Regions from separate parts of the Homo sapiens genome. Here region 1 is linked to region 2. Evidence: fine-mapped expression QTL. Tissue or cell type: whole blood. Region 2 holds a variant in brackets; the other region holds the start of a gene. All regions are shown on one strand. Distances are between the middles of the regions.

Region 1 (5,000 bases), 530 kb after region 2:
GATTACAGGAGTGAGCTGCTGCACCAGGCCTTTTTCTTTAAATCTTTTTTTGTTTGTTTGTTTTATTTTGTATGTAGGTGTTTTCAATCAGCCTTTTGGACATCCACTATTTTTTGGGGGGAAATTTAAGAAAATTTGTTTCTCTTCATAAGATTTTTGTGTGGTGGCTCATGCCTGTAATGCCAGCACTCGAGTCCAGGAGTTCGAGACCAGCCTGGGCAACATAGGGAGACTCTGTATCTACCAAAACAAAAAGGAGTGAAAAAAATAACAGCTGGGCATGGTGGCATATGCCTGTAGTGCCAGCTACTCAAGAGGCTGAGGTAGGATCGCCTGAGCCTGGGAGGCTGCAGTGAGTTTGATTGCACCACTGCACTCTAGCCTGGGCAACCGAGCAGGACCCTGTCAAAAAAATAAAAGTACAAGTGGATGCCTAATAAGAAAGATGTCTGATTTTAGATAAGAATATACAACAGGTTGACTGATTTAAGTGCCATAAACCCTGTGAACTCTTGACTCTTGCACTAAGCAATGAGAGAAAGGGGAAACTGGAATTTATAGTTCCCCCAAATACATGGTTTTAAAAATGAGCATTTTCCAGTTTTCTCCTAATCCATTAGAAAAATATATTTCATATAATCTTGCTTATTTGGTTGCCTAATTAAATCTGACAGTTCAGTCTTAAAAATTTGGAGCAGCAGTAAGATTATTTTGTTATGGTGTGTCTGAATTTAATATTTAAGTATACGCTGCAAAGGGCTTTGCCTTATTTGGTATTTTTCATTCTGCTAATTTAGATTTCAGGAGCCTCAGATTGGGGCTCTAGTTCGCCATCTGTTGGTCCAATACCCTTCTACTGTATTTTGTGGAATTACTATTTATGTGTGTATGTGTGTACAATAAAAAAGTCAAAGTTTTTCCCCAGGGTTGTAAATTAAAAATCCAAGACTAAAGACCTCTTTTGGATGTGTATACAAATATTAGTTTATTCTTTGTGTAATTTGACCCTATGACTCCAAACTGCCTGCCTTTGGTATTTGAGAACTATGACTATGCTTGAGAGTGTGATTTTAGGAGTACAAATGGAAATTCGCAGAAACCTAGGTGCAGATGTTGCAGGGGCAGGTGAGTTAGTGTAACTTTGTGGGAAGACTAAAACCGTTCTGTAACGACTGTGAGGGTGTTTTTTGATAAGCAGAAGTGACGTATAATGCCGGATATTGGTTCTGGTAAGCCACAAAAAAGTGTGAAGCATTTTGCGTCTTCCTTTTTGGTAGTAGAGCATACATACCCTTCTTATCTGCCGAATTTGATGATTTAATGATTTGAACGATTTTTTCTTCAGTCATTTAAGCCAGTTTTGATGAATCCTAGATTAGTCTTTTAAATCTCAAGATACTCCACTCATCTTTTGGCAACTTTAAAGGGTGGTAGAATTACACTTTGTGTGACACTTTGTATTACATTATGTTTATGAATTCTTTAAGTCTAGGAAAGGTTCCATTATTTTAAAGGTCCTATTTTGGGGACAATATAAAGTTCTGTACTGATAAACTGGTCATGAGAAATGATAAGGTGCCACCACTTTAAACCAACTCTGGTAACGAGGTGGGAAGTTGGCTTTTTGTTGTGAGACTTGTGTTTCTTTATGGAGTTCTTTGTTAAACTTTTAGCATGGCAGTGAACTTCCTTTTGGTGGCGGCAGGAAGCATAAATACTCATTGTGTAATGCCATTTGCCTGTTTTGGCGGATCTGCCAAGCCATGACACCCAAAACAAGACGCGTGTTTCTTCACGAAAACTACAGTTCCCAGCGGGCCCGGCGCCGGCGGGGCCATCACTTCCCCTCTGGCTCCCGGCTGTCCCTTCCCGGGCTGGCCCGGCGCGGGCCCTGGCTGGGGCCTGCGCAGTGACTACGTGCACCCTCCCCACCCCGCCCAACTCTGGTGGCTGCGGAGCGCGGTGCTGGGGCTAGTGCCCAGCCGTGCTGCAGTATACGGAGGCTGGCTGCTAGGGACAAAGGGCGGGCGGCGGAAGCCGCTTCACTGGTCAGGGAGCTTTCTGCAGGGTTAGCCTTGGAATAGTGTGGTGCCGACGGCCTTACCCTCTTTACTACACAGTGCAAACAGTTCCTCGCTCACGTCCTCTCGCTCCGCGGCGCCGGCCCGCCCTGCCCCTCAACTGGCGAGCCGCACCGCCGGCCCCAGCACGGAGGGCATGTGACGGCGTCAGTGCCTCAGGTTAGACTCACCTCGGCCGCAGCGAGGGCTGGCTTCCCCCTGCCGCAGTGCTGCGTGCCGTCGCCGCACGTCCGGGGCAGCTGGGGCCGGGCGCCGCGGCCTCCGCAGATGGAGGTACAAAAACATCGGCCACGGCGAGGAGCCATGACTGAGGCGGCGGCGGCCGCGCCTCCTGGCGGCCCGCGGGGGCGGCGCGGCGGGCGCCCCCTGGCGGCGCGCCGGGGTGGAGCGGCCCTTCGCCGCCGCAGCCGCAGCCGGCGGAGGCGCTGCTGTCCCTCCTCCCCGTGTCCCCGGCGCTCGCCCGCTTGCTCGCTCGCTCCATTCTCCCTCCGCTTCAGATTAAAGGGGGGGAGGGAAAAGGAGCTCGGCCGCCATTTTCCCAGTGCCGCCGCCACCGCCGCCACCGCTCGCCGAGCCGGCGGGAGAACCGAGCACCGTAGCGAAGCCGACTCGTCTCGCCGCGGCGGCGCGGGGGGCGGCTGAAGCGCGCTCCCCGGCTGGAAAGAGGCGGCCGGGGGTGGCGGCCTGGGTGCGGGTTCGGGCTGCAGACGGCGGTGCTTGTTTGTGCGGGGCGGGGGGGCGGTTTCACTCTCTGCCCCCGCCCGCCCGCCCTCCCGGCCGGGCTGCGGTCTCCAGCCGTGCTCGGGCCCCGTCGGTGCGGAGCAAGGCCGGGAAAGGGCCCGAAAGAGAAGAAAAAGCAGCCGCTCCCCGCCGCCGCCTTCCCCTCCCCCTCTGCCTCGCCCCCCCGCCCGGAAAGTCAGGGCGGCTCCGGGCGTCGGGGGGAGGAGAGCGGCGGGCCCGGGCCGGAGCCGCCGTCGCGCGCCCCCGCCCGCCGCTGGCCCTCGGCGCCCAGGCCGGGGGGCTGTTTGCAAACTGCGCCCATTTTGTGGGGCTGAATCCGCCCGGGCTACGCTCCTCCATCACGTGGTAGGTGCTGCTGCTGCTCCTCTCCTCCTCCTCCTGCTGCCCTTTCTCCTTCTCCTCGCTCTCCCTGTGGCTCCCATTTCTCTCTCTCTTTGTTAGTTGTAACTAGAAAGGCAGGGCAGGGTAGAAAAATCCCCCGGAACTTTAAATGGCCTCTCCGGGCTTCCCTGCTGCGGGTCCGGGCTGGGAGTCGCCCCAAGGGCGGGGGTGTGCGGGGGCCCTTCCCCAGGAGCTGCCGCCTCGTTCGCCAGCTTTTCCTTTGGCGTTCTATTTAAAAAGGCGGCCTGAAGAACATGATTTATTCCCGTAAAAGAACCCCCCAAACAAACTCTGGCTCTCGCCTTGAACTTCTCTTGACTGCAAAAGGCCTTTCTCTGCTCGAAACACACATCTTGGCGCGTTGCACGGTTTGTATCACAACTCTGATTGTTTCATTTATTATTTTTGTTGCCTGTAAATTCAGGTCACTTACGTTTTCAGATGTAGTCTCCCTCAGGCGGACTTTTTTTTTTTTTAAACTAAAGAGGAAGAGGGATTTATTTGCTTTTAAGTGAGTTGGAATCTTAACTGCCTTTTTGGGGGCCTGTTTTCCGGCTGACGGTCTTTTGATTCTTAGCAAATAGTTTGTTTTCCATACGATAAACAGCGCTACTCCCGTGTCTTACTTAAAAATCCTCGTTTTCCAATGTTGGAATCCCAATGTGGATTTATAGAGAAACGTGCTACTTAACTATTGCTTACTGATTGCTTTAGGGGAGAAGGGGTGACATGATGGCGCCACTTTAAATTGCTCTCTTTCCTTTTCCTCGGTCCCCCCCACCCCCCTTTATCCTGGAGGTCACTGGAGCATTTTCTGTGACTTATTAATAAAACTGTACTTGAGGGTGTTAGAAGCACAACTCGTAGGGGCTGGAGTTTAGTGCTCCTAGGGTCGGCAGACCGACTGCCGCGGTCCCCAAAGTTCCGAGAAATCTCTCTTCCTCCAGCCTCGCCTCCCTCCCCTCCATTCACAATCCTGGTGTTGCCATCTCCTTTGTCACGTGGCTAGCAATCATTGTGTTTTTTTGTTTGTTTTGGGGTGTGTGTTTATATTTTTAAATTGCAGCTCAGAGGAACCTTTCCTTTTCGCTTTGGAGAGATCAAAACGTTTTACTTGTTTTAGTTTTAGAGTCGGAGAACATTTTAAAATAAACGATAAAATTACATAATCTTTGCCTTGCATAATCATGATATAGTTATAGATTGCTACTGAACTTCATTTTGAAAGTCCTTTCAAGTATGGAAACTAGTACGTTAGAATATGTTTTCCATTTGTCAGGATGGTCTGTAATTTCTGTTTTCTCTGCTTTTTGGGTCAGTTAAAGGACCACTATTTACAAAGGCTTAAGTGGGTGTGTTTTCCCTTTCCCCTTTCCTATAGGCTCTACTTGGTTCCTTTTCTAGCATGCTGTCTGACCAATTTAGAAAATTTCAATTGTCTACAGGCGTTGTCAGTTAAAACTATTTTTTTAACCTATCAACAGTGAATACTTTTGAGTAGTAATTGTTTTGTGCCTAATGCTAAGTGTATTTATTAGCATTTCGGTGTTGATCTAGAAAATTTTTACTTTTAATCCTGTAGTTTTAGAAGTATGTTATTCCTTTATCTGTTTCTTTATATCAGTTTTTCCCATAATTGGGTAAACTCCTATTTTATAAAATACGAAGTACATTTCTGGTTTTTTCTACATAGGTTACTAGACATTTTTTCAATTTGAAAAAACATTTTGAATTAAGAAACTTTTTTTTTAAAGTAAATACGAAATGTGGTTCTTGAGTATGCATTGATCCTGATTT
Region 2 (5,260 bases):
GACTATCCACCTGATGAGAACAGTGGGAGGGAAAATAAAAATAAAAAAAAAAACAGAATATCCAAAATACATGGCACATTCTACTTTGCATTAACATTTGCCAACATATGTTATAAAGACAGGCAGCAGCGTCTTTTTCTGAGACTCTAATACTTCTACCAGAGGAGGAAGGGCTCAGCAAGTGCTTATTGAATAAATGAGCAAGCATGCACAGATGATAACTATTCATACCAGTGAAATGTACTCAGAGGGCACACATTCCTGACATGGTAGTGTTGCTATGACCACACACCTCAATTGTGTTAAGATAAAGGAATTTACACAGAGCTATGAGTTTGTGCCTAAAAGCTTTTAAAGAAATCATCCCATAAACTGGGCTGAGATGTATCAAACCTAGCAGACCCAAAACCCACTATCAATTTATGGAGACCTCACAGATATACCTGCTTTGCTTTATAACAGACACTGCCAAAACTTAAAAAAATAAATAACAGAGGACCAAAAGCAGGTCTGAAAATCATGGGAAAAATGCAGTAAGAACAGTTAGCTTGAAATCACGACTACACCATTATGGACAGCTTAAAGAAGAAGGGATTATTCAGACACTGGGTAGTATTTTCAGATGTTATTAAGTCACCAGGTGGGTTTCCATTTCAATAGAGTGTATTACCCCTTCCTGAGCCATTGTTGTAATGAATTTATGTCAGACTGATTTAATTTTACAGTGAAATAAAATTAACAACTTTCTGGCCCTTCCTTGCAGTTTATTTCTTATGAGTTAAGTGCCAGGACCAAGTCTTCTTCATGTTTGTATTCTGTAGGAGTGCACTTCAACACAGGAGATATTTAATACATATTTTAAAAATTACTATACTGCACTTTTAACTTACAAAATTTTTTCAAGATTTATTATCCCATTTTTGTCTTCACAATTACTCTGTGGGATAAGCAAGAGAGGGATTATAGTCTCTGTTTTGTAAGAGCAGAAACTGAGGTGCAGAGAGCTTACAACTTCTGCCCTTAGTGTTTTAGTGAATTTGCAGATTTCTCTGTGATCCTAAACCCTTCTTTCATTAGTTCTGTCAAAGTTCACAAGTGAATTTCTGAGCTCAGAGGTCCTAAATAACAGATATACTCATCAATGAAAATTACTAATCATTTACTATGGCAAGGGCACACTGGAAGATACAAAATGAGACATGGGCCCTTACAAGAAAGCAGTTTATAATGGTGTTATAGTCACAGGGCATATTAAAATGAATACTATCATTGATGTCAGCTATTTAAGAGAGAACATTATATTTCCTTGTAAGACAAAGAAAGGTATTTCTATTGCTTTACAGTTTATAAATACTTGTTAATTTTCTCTTGTAACTTTTGAGATATTAGCTGTAATGTGGCAAAGATAATACAACAGCAGAAGTTAGGACTCACCAAGCAATCTCTCAATGTCATCCACAACCACACAACTGAGCTGGGATTTGTACGCATCATCAAAGATCTGAAAGAAAACAAAGTCATTTATTATCTCACTGTCCTCCACAGTTACGACAATTTCCAAGAAGTTTAGTTACTTCTTGAGCAATACTAAACAAAGCACAGGAAAACACCAACACTTTGGACTACAATAAATTAGAATTGACACACTGGATCACCGCTGAACAGAGAGCAGGCTAAGGCTGTTTTCAGCACTAACAGCTGTGTGTGTCACACCTGGGCAGGCTGGGGACTAGCTGATCATTAATCAACTGACACATCCCATCACTTCTATCACACTGGTCTCTGGTATCTGTGTCAGGAGCAGGACTTTAGTGTAATGACTCAAGAGCTAGATGGAGCCACAAGAGATGTGTAAAATAAAACTAGATGCCATTTTATTATCTATAAGAATTGTGGCTCTGTTAAGCAAAAGTAACACTGAAAGATCAGAATTCTGTCAACTCAAATCAGACCATAATGGTAAAAGAGCTTACAAAAGAATTAAAGGTTGAGTATGAAGGATCAGATAGATGTACGTATAAAACCAGACAAAAGATATGAATGCACTGTCTTAAGATGGTCAAGAAAATGAGAATGAAATTAAGCAGTGAAGGAACGGTTTTAGCCTGGCAAGGATGTAGTAATTTCAAATCAGATAGAAGAATTAGCTTATCTGCAAGTTGAATAGAAGTACTCAAGGCCTTGAGACTAGCCTTTTTGGAAATGAAGGTACTATTCCAGAGACTACAGGTGGGGCTCAGGAAATCTCATCAGTGTCATGAGTAAGAATTAGTTTCTGCATCCCAGCCCACTCTCTCTGGTTGGTAACCAACCTCAG[C/T]ACACCAAGATAGTAAACCCGATCCCCACCCGCACCAACATCTTGCTTGGAATGGCATATATTCCTTCCTGGGTATCTTTTAACCATTGAAGACTTATAATTAGGTACAGAAATAAAGTCAAACTCATGATATTAACCATTTTTCATGTTAGGTTTAAAAACAACCTGTGTATACTTGGTTTTTAAAGTATTCCTAACAATTAAGTTACCATAATAGAGTCTCACTGTGACCATCTTGATTCAGTTCCTTCCTTACCTCTTTCCTGGCATAAATACTGACAATTTCTCCAGATATTTAATCAGGTCAACCCCTCTGGTGAAAACGTTTTCCTATGCACCATCCCTTTACCCCCTAATTACCCTCCCACACTCTGTCTAAACCCCATCTATCCTTTCGTCCTAAGCTATCTGTCTCCCCACTGGACTGTGAGGTGGATAAAAGCTTTATTCTGTTCATGTTATGTGTAGTGCCCAGCACAGAACAGAATTCAGTAATGATGTCTGCTCTGTAGGTTCAATGGTTGAAACAACACAAGTTCCAATTCCATCTTGCCATAAATCACTTGTCTTCTCCTTTGGCACAGGATTTTGTATATTACGTATATATATTATTGATTCATTGTACTATTTTTGTATTATACTAGATTGCAAGCCCTCAGATGGCAAGTGCTGTCTTAATTACCTCTGTATCCTCATATCATTTAATATAATGCCTTATTAGAGAGTAATTAAGAAGTATTTACTAAAAGAATAAATTTACACATTTTAAATTCAAGTAGAAATATTAAGTGAGAAGTTGGAGATATCTGATTGAAGTCAGGGAATGGAAATCACTCTCAGGGCAGTGACTGCTGAAACCATGACAGAGGAAGCCATCTTCAAGAAGAAATGGCAGAAGAAGAAGAAAAAAAGGCCTAAGGATTGAGTCTTGGAGTGCTGCCTTATTCATTCACTCACTCAACAAATATTTTTGAATTCTTATTATGTATCAAGCATTAATGAAGGCACTGCAGAGGATAATAAATAAGACAAAAATAATCCTACTTTCACAAAAGTTAGAGTTGGGGAAGCAAGTCACATGTAATTATAACAAAGCATGACATTATTAGGCTAGGGGAAATACAAGATGATACGGGGGCACAGGGTAGGCAGTATTTCCCCAGTGCCTTGGAAGTTAGGCATAACTATGGGGCTTGCTTTGGTTAATGAAATATGAGGGGAAATACACCCCTTTCTGAAAGAAGCCTTAGGAGTCACTGCATGATTCACCATACTCCTTTCCCTGCCTTGGCTATCATGGAATCAGATGTAAGGCGGGGCCTCTATTATCTATTAGCTTGAGTCTCTGAGAAAATATAATGAACAGAACTCACTGTCTGAGCCATGACGGAGATATAGTAGTGTAAATAAAAAATAAACTTTGTTGTGTTAAGCCACTGAGATTTTCGGGTTGTCCTTTCATGCAGCATAACTCAGCCTATCTTGACTCTTAAATGGACTTAGGGAGTCAGGACAGTTTCCTAAATTTAGGAAGTGACACTTAACCTGAGACTTGAAGCATGAACAACAGTTAACCAGTGGAAAGGGTGGAAGAAAGTGTTCTAAGCAGAATATACTGAAAATTAGGAGACACAGAGATGTGAACATTCAGGAACACTGCAGGAACGGTCAATAAGAATTAAAATAAAGTGGTGTTGGTGTCAATGCAGTGGAGTGGTAGGTGAGATGAATTAGAAGAGGTGATGAAGGAACTTGGACGTAAAGAGTCTTACAAATTTCATGAGTTAAAATTTTACTGTAAAGGCAATAACAAGCCACTAAAGGGTTATAAGCAATGGACTGACATGTCAGGCTTATGTTTTAGAAACATTTTCCTGATTGTATAGAAAAGCATTAGAGGGGAATAATAGTTAATTGAGATTGTGGAGTTCTAGGTGAGAAATGATGGTGGCCAGGGAGTGGGTGTGCTGGTAAGTGGACAGAATCTAGAGATGTTTAGGAGGAGGAACTGAAAGAACTTGGTGAATGAATGGGTGTGGTGATGAAAGAGAAAACTGGAGTCAAGGATCTGTCCTGATTTGGCAACTGAAATAAAACACAGAGGTGAAGCTGGTTTGAAAATGGATCATGAGTACATTTAAAGAGCAAGAAGGGAAGGGCCTTTTATCTTCTCCTCCCCAAACACAGAAAAAGAGAAAATGAGAATAGGATATTTATTTCAGTCTCTTGATACACAATGATGGTTCCTTTTGGCTTTGAGTTGGTACATTCGAGACAACTGAAAAGCTCAGAAGCAGTTCTACAGCGGTTCTTTGCTACTTTTTTTGAAGATGGAACCGCAGCCAATGTGGTATCTTATAAACTCAGGTAATTTTAAGGAATCACTGAAAATAATGCTTTGCTTTTCAAAACATTTTTCAGAATTCTACTAAAAGCTCTGATGCCAGCATATAACTCTGACCATCAGGCTGTGAGATCATGGATTAGAGCCACAGGGACCTGGAACACCACAGCCTGGCTGGTTGCAGTAGTTCTATGTTTTTCCTTCTCAAAACAATGTACAGCTTATATGGCTGCAAGGACCTTACTCAGGACATTGCTTAGGTCTAAACTAATGATGACTTGCTACATGGTATGTAGTCTCACCAACTTATCTCAGACACTGTAATTCACAAAGCATTCCAAATCACTTCACAGTTGACTGCATGGCCTACACATAACATTTGAGAGGAAAAATACCTGCAGCAGTCACTTAATATCAAGTAGTGACGTTCTTGTTTTTTGCAGTCGGTCTCTGTGCTAATTACTATCAGAGGGAGAGGTGCACTCACAGCAAGCTCTATTAACACACCGACCATGACGAAGGCTGTGCAATTCCAGTTGTAACTTGACTAGTTTCAGGTAACCAGTCAACTGAAACTCCTCCGGGTAGCTACTCTGCTC

What was found. PIP is the estimated chance that this variant, and not a neighbour inherited with it, causes the effect.
Region 1: it holds the start of KANSL1-AS1, and the variant in region 2 is fine-mapped to the expression of KANSL1-AS1 in whole blood (INTERVAL, PIP above 0.99).

The regions. Positions count from the first base shown.
Region 1 is chr17:46,190,990-46,195,989 of GRCh38, reverse strand. KANSL1-AS1 (KANSL1 antisense RNA 1) reads right to left here and starts at 2,417. Exons shown (of 2, transcript NR_034172.1): 1 at 2,252-2,417. It overlaps KANSL1 (KAT8 regulatory NSL complex subunit 1), which reads left to right and starts at 2,561. Exons shown (of 15, transcript NM_015443.4): 1 at 2,561-3,167.
Region 2 is chr17:46,722,790-46,728,049 of GRCh38, reverse strand. NSF (N-ethylmaleimide sensitive factor, vesicle fusing ATPase) reads right to left here. Exons shown (of 21, transcript NM_006178.4): 16 at 1,435-1,501. It also overlaps a transcript of LRRC37A2 not described here. Among named protein-coding and RNA genes, the nearest start is that of WNT3, 93 kb to the left of the region's middle. The variant C/T (reference allele first, on the strand shown) is at 2,318.